2 separate regions of the Homo sapiens genome follow, and region 2 is linked to region 1. The links come from fine-mapping of genetic effects on gene expression. A gene starts in region 1. The other region holds a variant in brackets. All regions are shown on one strand. Distances are from middle to middle. Region 1 holds the start of RAB3GAP2 (RAB3 GTPase activating non-catalytic protein subunit 2). Region 2 overlaps IARS2 (isoleucyl-tRNA synthetase 2, mitochondrial).

Evidence for each region. PIP is the estimated chance that this variant, and not a neighbour inherited with it, causes the effect.
Region 2: its variant is the best candidate, but not a certain one, in a credible set for the expression of RAB3GAP2 in sigmoid colon (GTEx, PIP 0.76).

What each region holds. Positions count from the first base shown.
Region 1 is chr1:220,269,872-220,274,269 of GRCh38, forward strand. RAB3GAP2 (RAB3 GTPase activating non-catalytic protein subunit 2) reads right to left here and starts at 2,582. Exons shown (of 35, transcript NM_012414.4): 1 at 2,352-2,582. The coding sequence starts at 2,466. RefSeq lists an enhancer at 676-1,177.
Region 2 is chr1:220,139,666-220,144,063 of GRCh38, forward strand. IARS2 (isoleucyl-tRNA synthetase 2, mitochondrial) reads left to right here. Exons shown (of 23, transcript NM_018060.4): 19 at 518-624; 20 at 2,138-2,283; 21 at 3,279-3,469. It also overlaps the pseudogene RPS15AP12. Among named protein-coding and RNA genes, the nearest start is that of MIR194-1, 24 kb to the left of the region's middle. The variant G/A (reference allele first, on the strand shown) is at 1,938.

The DNA of each region.
Region 1 (4,398 bases):
GTGGCCTGGACCAGGAGAGTGGTAGAAGGATAAAGAAAATCTGTTCCTTTTTTCTACATTCCCTATCTACAATCCTGCATCTGCTATCCTTCACAGCCAAGCTCCTTGAAATAGTATATTTCACTTTTTAACCCCTTATCCTATAACTATGCTTTCTGCCTCCACTATCCTACTGAAACTGTCCTAAGGTCCAAGTTACCTCCACCTTCTCAAAACCAATAAGCATTTTTCTATCCTTTTCTTACCTGACCCCTGCTGCATTTGCAAAACTGCTGACCATTCCTCACCCTCATCAAGTTCTCGCCTTCCTCAGCTCCGAGGGCCTTACTCTCACATGATTTTCCTCTTTCTTTTACTCCTTCTCAGTCTTCTTCCCAGTAACCTCTACTTGACTTTTAAACACCAGTGCTCCTCTAAGCTTACAGCTTTAGTACTCAGTGCATTTCACAACATACATAATCCTTGAGACTGAACTGACACTTTTTGCTGTTAGCTCCCCAATTAACATCTCTGGCCCAGTACTCCCTACTGTTTAGACTATCTATATCTGGTGTTCAACCAGATGTCCTTACTTGGACATACCATAAACATTTAAAATGCAAAAGGTTGAAAATCTGTATCCTTCATTCTCTTATTACATATAGTTGCCCAAACCACAAGCCAAAGACTTCCTAAACTCCCCCTCACTTACTAGTTACAATGCCCATCACCAGACCTTCACAAGGTCCTGCAGATTCTAACTCCTTAACGTCTTTCTAATCTAGTCCTTCATCTTCATCCTACTAAGGTTCTTAATTCAAGCTCACATAATTTCTTGCTTGGATTACTGGAAGAGCTTCCCAATCCATTTCCCTTCTTCCAATCTCTCCTCCACTTTGCTACCAGAGCACATTACAGGTCTTCAACAAATGTTGTTGATTACATTAAGTACAAATCTGACAATGTCATTTCTCTACTTAAACTTTCAGAGAAACGCCACAATTTTCACAAGGCCTCTCATGGTCTAGCTCCTTATTACTACTACTGCCTCATTGCCCCAACTCTTCCTCTCCCATCCTCCTCTCCAGCCATTCAGCTTTTCTTAGTTCTCTAAATACCATGCCATTTCAGGCCTCCCTTCCTCTGCACATGCTATTACTGCTCCTTTACTCCTCTAACTAGTACTTCAAAGGTAGGCTTAAGTATCACCACTTCAAGAAAATGCCTCATGTATATCTCAGTCACACTGAATGGAAGTTAATGATTTGTCTGTAAACCAGAAGTTCCTACAGCAGGGTCCACCAACCTTATTTGGTTTGTAGCACCAATGACTGGCACAAAGTATGCAATCATTCACAGATGGGTTCGATTTGATATCTTCTAAATTTTCTAAAAAAGGGAGAGGAGCTTAGTGGGCTTTATATCACCATTCCGGTATAGCACAAAGTGAGAGCGCTGTACTACAAAGCCAAATGTGCTTCAGGTTGGAAATGCAAAAATAAAATAAAATAAAATAAAATAAAATAAAACACAAGGCACACCCTTTCAAAATGAAATGTACGAAATTCTGAAAGCCTATATAGTATCTAATAAACCAGCCTTGGAACTTTATACTACTTGGGGAAAGGCTTATTAAACACTTTGATGATAAAAATAGGTGGAAGGCTTCAATAAAGCAAATTAACCTTTCTTGGCTATGTCACTGTAATTTTAGTTCCTAATGTAGATTCTCGTTCACTTCCTGACAGGTTATTTTCCTTCTTTGAGAGAGTCTTACCTCAAGAGTCACTCATTTGTCAGCCATTTGTTCTCAAAATCTGAATGGGGGAAATGCAGATGAAAGAAGGGAGAGTGTGGGGGGATGATCAACACTTTCGGAATGGGAGGTAGCAGAAGGCCACAGTCTCCGGGATGGAAGAGAGTGGGAGCTGGGGCAATACCAGAGTGGAGCGCTGACATGTGGCAAGGAACGGGGAGGATGCGATCACGGAGCAGGCAACATGAAACAGGGAACGACCCCAGGCTGAAGATGGGAGACGGAGAAGATACTCAGAGAGAAAGCTAGGAATGTGTGGGGGTGGGGGGAGGGAGGGAGAAAGCGGTGATAGGCAGAGGCGAGAGGAAACAAGACGCAGTTTTTAGCCAGGGGTCAGAGGGCCTAAGGAGAAAAGCTGGGTCGAGAGGAAGACAACACAAATGGGGCTTCAGGACGAGGTGGGCAGGGTGTCATCCCGGAGCGGAGGGGAGGCACGGGGAGAACTGGGGGTCCAGAGGGCAGAGGCAGGAGGCGCAGAGCGAGTAGGAGACTCGAACCCGTGAGCAGAGGCCGCGGGTGACGAGGGAAGGAAGGGCGAGGCCAGAGAGGCACTTACTGGGGTCCCTCCGCAAGGCGCCGCTGAGGATCTCCTCCCGCAGGTGAGGAAAGAGGAAGTCCCGGGCGGCCTGGAGGTCCTGGAAGTAGCAGAACTGGACAATGGAGCAGGCCATGGCTCCAGGGAACCCCACTACGGCACTCACCTTACCTCACCACGCCCTGCCCCCTCCACCCCACTGCGGCCGCCACCGAGCCCCAATAGCTCTAGCCAAGCAGAAGGCGGAGAAACCAAACCGGAAGCTGTCACTGACACGGGTCCGCTGTCTCCGAGTACTGCGCAGGCGCAGGCTGGCCCAGGCGCCTAGGGCGCGGGGGCCCGGGTCACGTGACTACGGCGCCGCCGCTGCAGGTGGAGCCAAAGTCGACGTGGAGGCTTGGGGCAGATTTTTCAGTCCCAGTTGTGTGTCTACGCCGAGGCATGAACCCTTTCATTCATTCTGGCTTTTAGCCAGAGGTGTTCTAATTGGACTTGTCCGCGCAGCCCTTTGACTTATTCAGTCTTATTGGTCCCCTACTATTGGCACGATCCTGATGTTTCACAGAAACTAATTCGTTTTAAACTAGTGGCAGGCCAGTGGGGGACCGTATCCTGCAAGAGTCGGATTTTGAAAAGATTAATTGCTCTTCCGGAGATTAGCCCCGTCAAGGCTGGCTTTAAATGCTCCTACTATAGATTCCCATAGTACTACGCAAGCCCAATATAGTACGTGTTATAGTGTATTATACACTTTTGTTTTCATTATTCATTTGGTTTTTCATTCATGCATTCATCCATCCATTCAACAAATATTTGTTAGTCTTTTAAATGCCAGCCACGCAGGGTGCTGAGCATTAGAGAACAAAAGAGAAGAAGTACCTTTTCCCAGAAAGCTGGAATTCTAGTGACTGATACAGGCAGTAAGCAATTAATTACAGTATTTCCCTTTAATCCAAGGGGATATGTTTTAAGATCCCCAGTGGATGACTCAAACCATGGATAGTACTGAAACCTATGTATGTGTATTATGTTTTTACCTATACATATATATGATAAAGTTAAATTTATAAATTAGGCACAGTGAAAGATTAACAATAACTAATAATTAAATTGAATAATTATGTGGAAAATGAACCCATGGATAAAGGGGGGACTACTGTACTTAACTATTTAACTGAAATTGTGATCATGCTAGTAAGTGCTTCATAAATATTTGCTGAAGAAATAAATGGAATGCATACATAAAGTAAATAGAATAACTTGTTTCTTTGACAAAGCACTATTTTTGAAAGTACTTTACATTGTTCATTTGGATAGTCACAAATGCCATCTAAAAATAGTGTGTCTTATCCCATTTTTAAAATAAAGAAATTGAGCTGTCTCTGAGCAGACTTTAAGTTATTTTTCCAAAAAATAAAAACAAAAAAAATTATTTTAATGTGAGCACAAAGGCCTGTAGGCACTTACACATTTCCTAAAGGAAACCTAAAGAGGCCATCCACTTTGTATGAAAAAAGGGCACAGGAACAAATGAAAGGCAAGTGGATGGGGTCCAGAGCATTCATTTCTGTCAGGCCCGTGGACATACACACTTAGTCCTAATAATATAACAACTATAATTTAGTGCCCAGGTTCCTACTCCATTATTTCCTACTTCTAGAGTAGGATGATTTTCACAAAATAGGATAGGCAATTTCTATGTTATCAGGTTAACAGGAATCAGTTCTTCACCTATAAAAGGCAGTTGAATCAGATGTGCTGTAAGGTCCCTTTAAGCATCAGGGACCTATACTTCTGTAATCAAAGCTTTCAGAAAAAGCAAGCTGCCAGTGCTCCCTTCTTCCATCTGAAGAAATGCAGTGTTTCCTCAGATCATCACTAACTAGAATAATCCAGCCCTGATAAGATTATTCCCTAAAATCCAGCACCAATCCCAAACTAAACCAAAATTTAAATTTAGATTCTTAGTGTTACTGGACGAATAACAAACACATGACACTTTCTGGAAGGAGACTGTCATTCCTTGAAAACCATTCAAGTTCCTATTCAGGTAAATGCATTTTGTGGA
Region 2 (4,398 bases), 130 kb before region 1:
GCTTGAGCCCATGGTTTTGAGGCTGCAGTGAGCTGTGATTGTGCCACTGCACTCCAGCCTGGTTGACAGAGTGAGACCCTGTCTTAAAAAAAAAAAATTGTGTTTTCTCATAATTGGAAATGTGTTTGCATTAGTGTACCCTTAAGTCAGAGGTGTACATACCAATTTTGCCCAAATCAAAAATAAATGAGGCATAAATGAAGGAACACTAATGAATTGTTGGTGACGTCCACTGTTTGCTGTTGTTAAAATGGTGTGATTTTGTTATTTACAATCTCATTCTTTCCTTAATTAATGTCCTTTCGTAGTTCTCAGAGTAAAATAGTATTTTCTGAGTGTAGTCAAATGTGTTATCCAGAAATGACATTTGGAAGATTCCCAGGAGTTCTTGCATATTGCCTGTTTTGTATTTGTCTCATTGAAACATATTTTTGAAAGGAGCATATTTTGCTTGTGATGACTTACATTTTCATTTGCCTGTCTCAGCTTCCAAATTTATTTTGGCTTTGTTCCCTAGATTACCGAATTATACAAACAATATGATTTTGGAAAAGTTGTTCGGCTGTTACGGACGTTTTATACCAGAGAGCTCTCTAACTTTTATTTCAGTATAATCAAAGATAGGTATGTATGACTAAATATTAAAATGCTTAACAATGGCCAGGTGTGGTGACTCACGCCTGTAATCCCAGCACTTTGGGAGGCCGAGGCGGGTGGATGACATGAGGCCAGGAGTTCGAGACCAGTATGGCAAAATACAAAAATTAGCCGGGCATGGTGGCACATGCCTGTAATCCGAGTCACTCAGGAGACTGAGGCACGAGAATCGCTTGAACTTGGGAGGCGGAGGTTGCAATGAGCAGAGATTGTGCTGCTGCACTCCAGCCTGGGTGACAGAGCAAGATCTCGTCTCAAAAAATAACAACAACAAAACCTCAACAAGTATTTTTTGAGTGTCTACTTGTGTTTGGCAACCGTCAGGGATACAGTGATGAGCAAGATGGGCAGTGTTGTGCAGTTATTAAGATTGGGTTCCGGGCCAGGCGTGGTGCCTCACGCCTGTAATCCCAGCACTTTGGGAGGCCGAGGCGGGCGGATCACGAGGTCAGGAGATCGAGACCATCCTGGCTAACACAGTGAAACCCCGTCTCTACTAAAAATACAAAAAATTAGCTGGGCGTGGTGGCGGGTGCCTGTAGTTCCAGCTACTTGGGAGGCTGAGGCAGGAGAATGGCGTGAACCCGGGAGGCAGAGCTTGCAGTGAGCCGAGATCGTGACACTGCACTTCAGCCTGGGCGACAGAGCAAGACTCCGTCTCAAAAAAAAAAAAAAAAAAAGATTGGGTTCCGGAGTCAAGTCTGAGTATAAAGGTTTGACCTCCCGCTTACTAGCTTTCTGATTTGGGGCAACTTATTCTGTAATCTGTTTCTTCATCTGTAAAATGGGTATAATAATACTTACCTCGTGATTGAGAAGGAAAAGCAATAATGTGCTTAAAGCTGTGCTTGATAAAGTGTTCAAAAAATCATCACTACTAATATCAGACGATGAACATAATGCTTGTTCTCAGGAGTTCTCAAATCCTGAGGGGAAGAGAGAGATATATATGTGCAATTATATGGTAACAGTGTATAATATTAGCAGTATCCTTGTAGAAGAGGCCTTGATGCCAAGTCTTCATCTGTTGCTCCAGTGTGCAGGTGACGGTCCTACCTTCATGGTAATGAGTCCAGTCTGAGGCGTTATCCTCAGCCTGTCAGCACCCCAAGGACCTTGCACATAGGGATTATAACTCCTACTCCTTCCCTTAAAACACTAATAACATTGGAGTGGGTGGGAGCCACATGTTAAATACCATCAACTAACTTATTCATAGTCCTTTAATACAGTAGTCTAGACTCTAGTTGTCATCCACCTGAGAAACAGAATGAGATAGC[G/A]TAGCCATGAGTGCTTTCAAGGAGGTGGGTACACCTGGACGGAGTAAAATTGTAGGAGAGTGTATTGTATTCTTTAAGTAGAAGATGATTAGAGCCATAGGATTAGCCACTAGGAATAAACTCAACCTGAGGCAGGTCCCATCTAGGTGACCATAATGTATAAAGTATTGTCAACTGCTGAATAAGTTGTTCTTGTTCAGGCTCTATTGTGAAAAGGAAAATGACCCCAAACGACGCTCTTGTCAGACTGCATTAGTTGAAATTTTGGATGTAATAGTTCGTTCTTTTGCTCCCATTCTTCCTCACCTGGCTGAAGAGGTGTTCCAGCACATACCTTATATTAAAGGTAAGGAATACTTCATTTATTCTCTTAATGAGAAATATCCCTGATCAAGGTGCAACTTCTACTTCTATCTGCTTCATAAAAGGGGCACTTATCCATTTACAGTGACTGCTGTGTGACACAGTGTGTCTTGGTCATGTATTTGTTTCTGCACCTATTTGTAGAGGAGTAGGGTAAATTTCAGAATTCTGTGCTTTCTGAAATGTATTAGCAGCTTGACAGTGTCGAGAAATCACCTTTTTTCTTAAATACCTTTATAACTGTTCTGAAATGGCTGGCATGGTGGCTCACACCTGTAATCCCAGCACTTTGGGAGGCCGAGGTGGGCAGATCACTTGAGGTCAGGAGTTCAAAATTAGCCAGGCCAACATGGCGAAACCCCATCTCTACTAAAAATATAAAAATTAGTGGGGCATGGTGGTGGCGGGTGCCTGTAGTCCCAGCTACTTGGGAGGCTAAGGCAGGAGAATTGCTTGAACTCGGGAGGTGGAAGTTGCAGTGAGCCAAGATCATGCCACTGTACTTCAGCCTGGGTGACAGAGCAAGACTGTCAAAAAAAATGTTCTGAAATATATTTTAGGTTGTATTAAAACAAAATATAGTGCTTTTAGTGAGTTTTATGTTAGTTGTTTTCTTCTGATTGTATTAAGTTTATAAAAATTAGAAACTATAGAAGTGTAGGAAGAGGGGGAAGTCACTTATAATGTTACTCCTGATAGCTGTTAATATTGGGATATTTCTATTTATTTTTTTCTAAGCATCCTTTTTTTCTTTGAGATCTTATTATATATTTTCTCTTTTGTTTAAATATAACAAAGATTTTCCAATGCTGATATAAATGTTTTGTAAATAATTAGGATGGATCCATAATATTTCATCACTTGATTACCATAAATAACAATTCTTATTTCCCATTAATGGTAACTATTTAATGGTTAGAGCTTCATATACAGTTTAGGATGTTTGTAAAGCAGTTTACTATTTTTGTTCTTCTGAAGAGCCCAAGAGTGTTTTCCGTACTGGGTGGATTAGTACTAGTTCTATCTGGAAAAAGCCCGGGTTGGAAGAAGCTGTGGAGAGTGCGTGTGCAATGCGAGACTCATTTCTTGGAAGCATCCCTGGCAAAAATGCAGCTGAGTACAAGGTTATCACTGTGATAGAACCTGGACTGCTTTTTGAGATAATAGAGGTATGCAGCAATATGTACCTTTTGAAATGGTGTTAGTATCATAGAGCTTTGCCTGAAATTTGCTTTTAAAATGTGTCTAAATTAATCAAATAACATTGGGTTATGTGTAACTTTACTATGCAATTATTCTATTATGTTCCTTTTCACATACTTTTTCACTTTTAAATATCTTTTAATAAATTAAGCAAAGTCATGCACATTTAAAAAAAAGTGTCTAAATTAAAAAAAAATTAATTTAGAAATTAGGGTTTCCGTCTTCTAATCCTGATATCATCACTGATTCTTTTGTTTCCTATTTCACCATATTCTTTTCCATGTCTTGTAAAACGTGTTCTGTGCATGTAACACATACATATTACTGTGTAGGGATAGGGAAGGAATAGATAAAGTTCTGTTTCAAACAAAAGGCCTCAGGACTATTTAGAAGACAGGGGACATATAAATTGATCGCGATCGTCTTTGAATGTATAAAAAATGGGAGTTTTGTATTAAGGGTCAGGTTTCCTGAGAATTTCATCCATCTGGACCAGATTCAAAACAAACCCAAAAAGAGTTTCCATTTTTATTTTGTGAAATCTGGAGAAAATTCATTTTCTCCAGCAAGTTACCACATATATTTCAAAGCATTTATCCTATTTTTATTTCTAGAAGGGCCATCAGAATTTTATTCTTGGGATTTTTAGGGGTTGATTGGCCAGATTGGCTTATAGCTTAACATAATGATGTGATTTTTCTCCAGTCTAAATGCTTAAGAAGAGAATTGGCAATGAATATAATTTTTTTTCCACGGGGCATTTTATTTGTAAATATATGTATTACATCCCTAGAAAAAGAATCCCAGGATTTTCCCTCCTGTGTGTTTTCATCTTGCTTCTTCATGGTCCATGATGCCAGCTGAGGTTGTCAGTACAATGAAACCAAACTGGCGG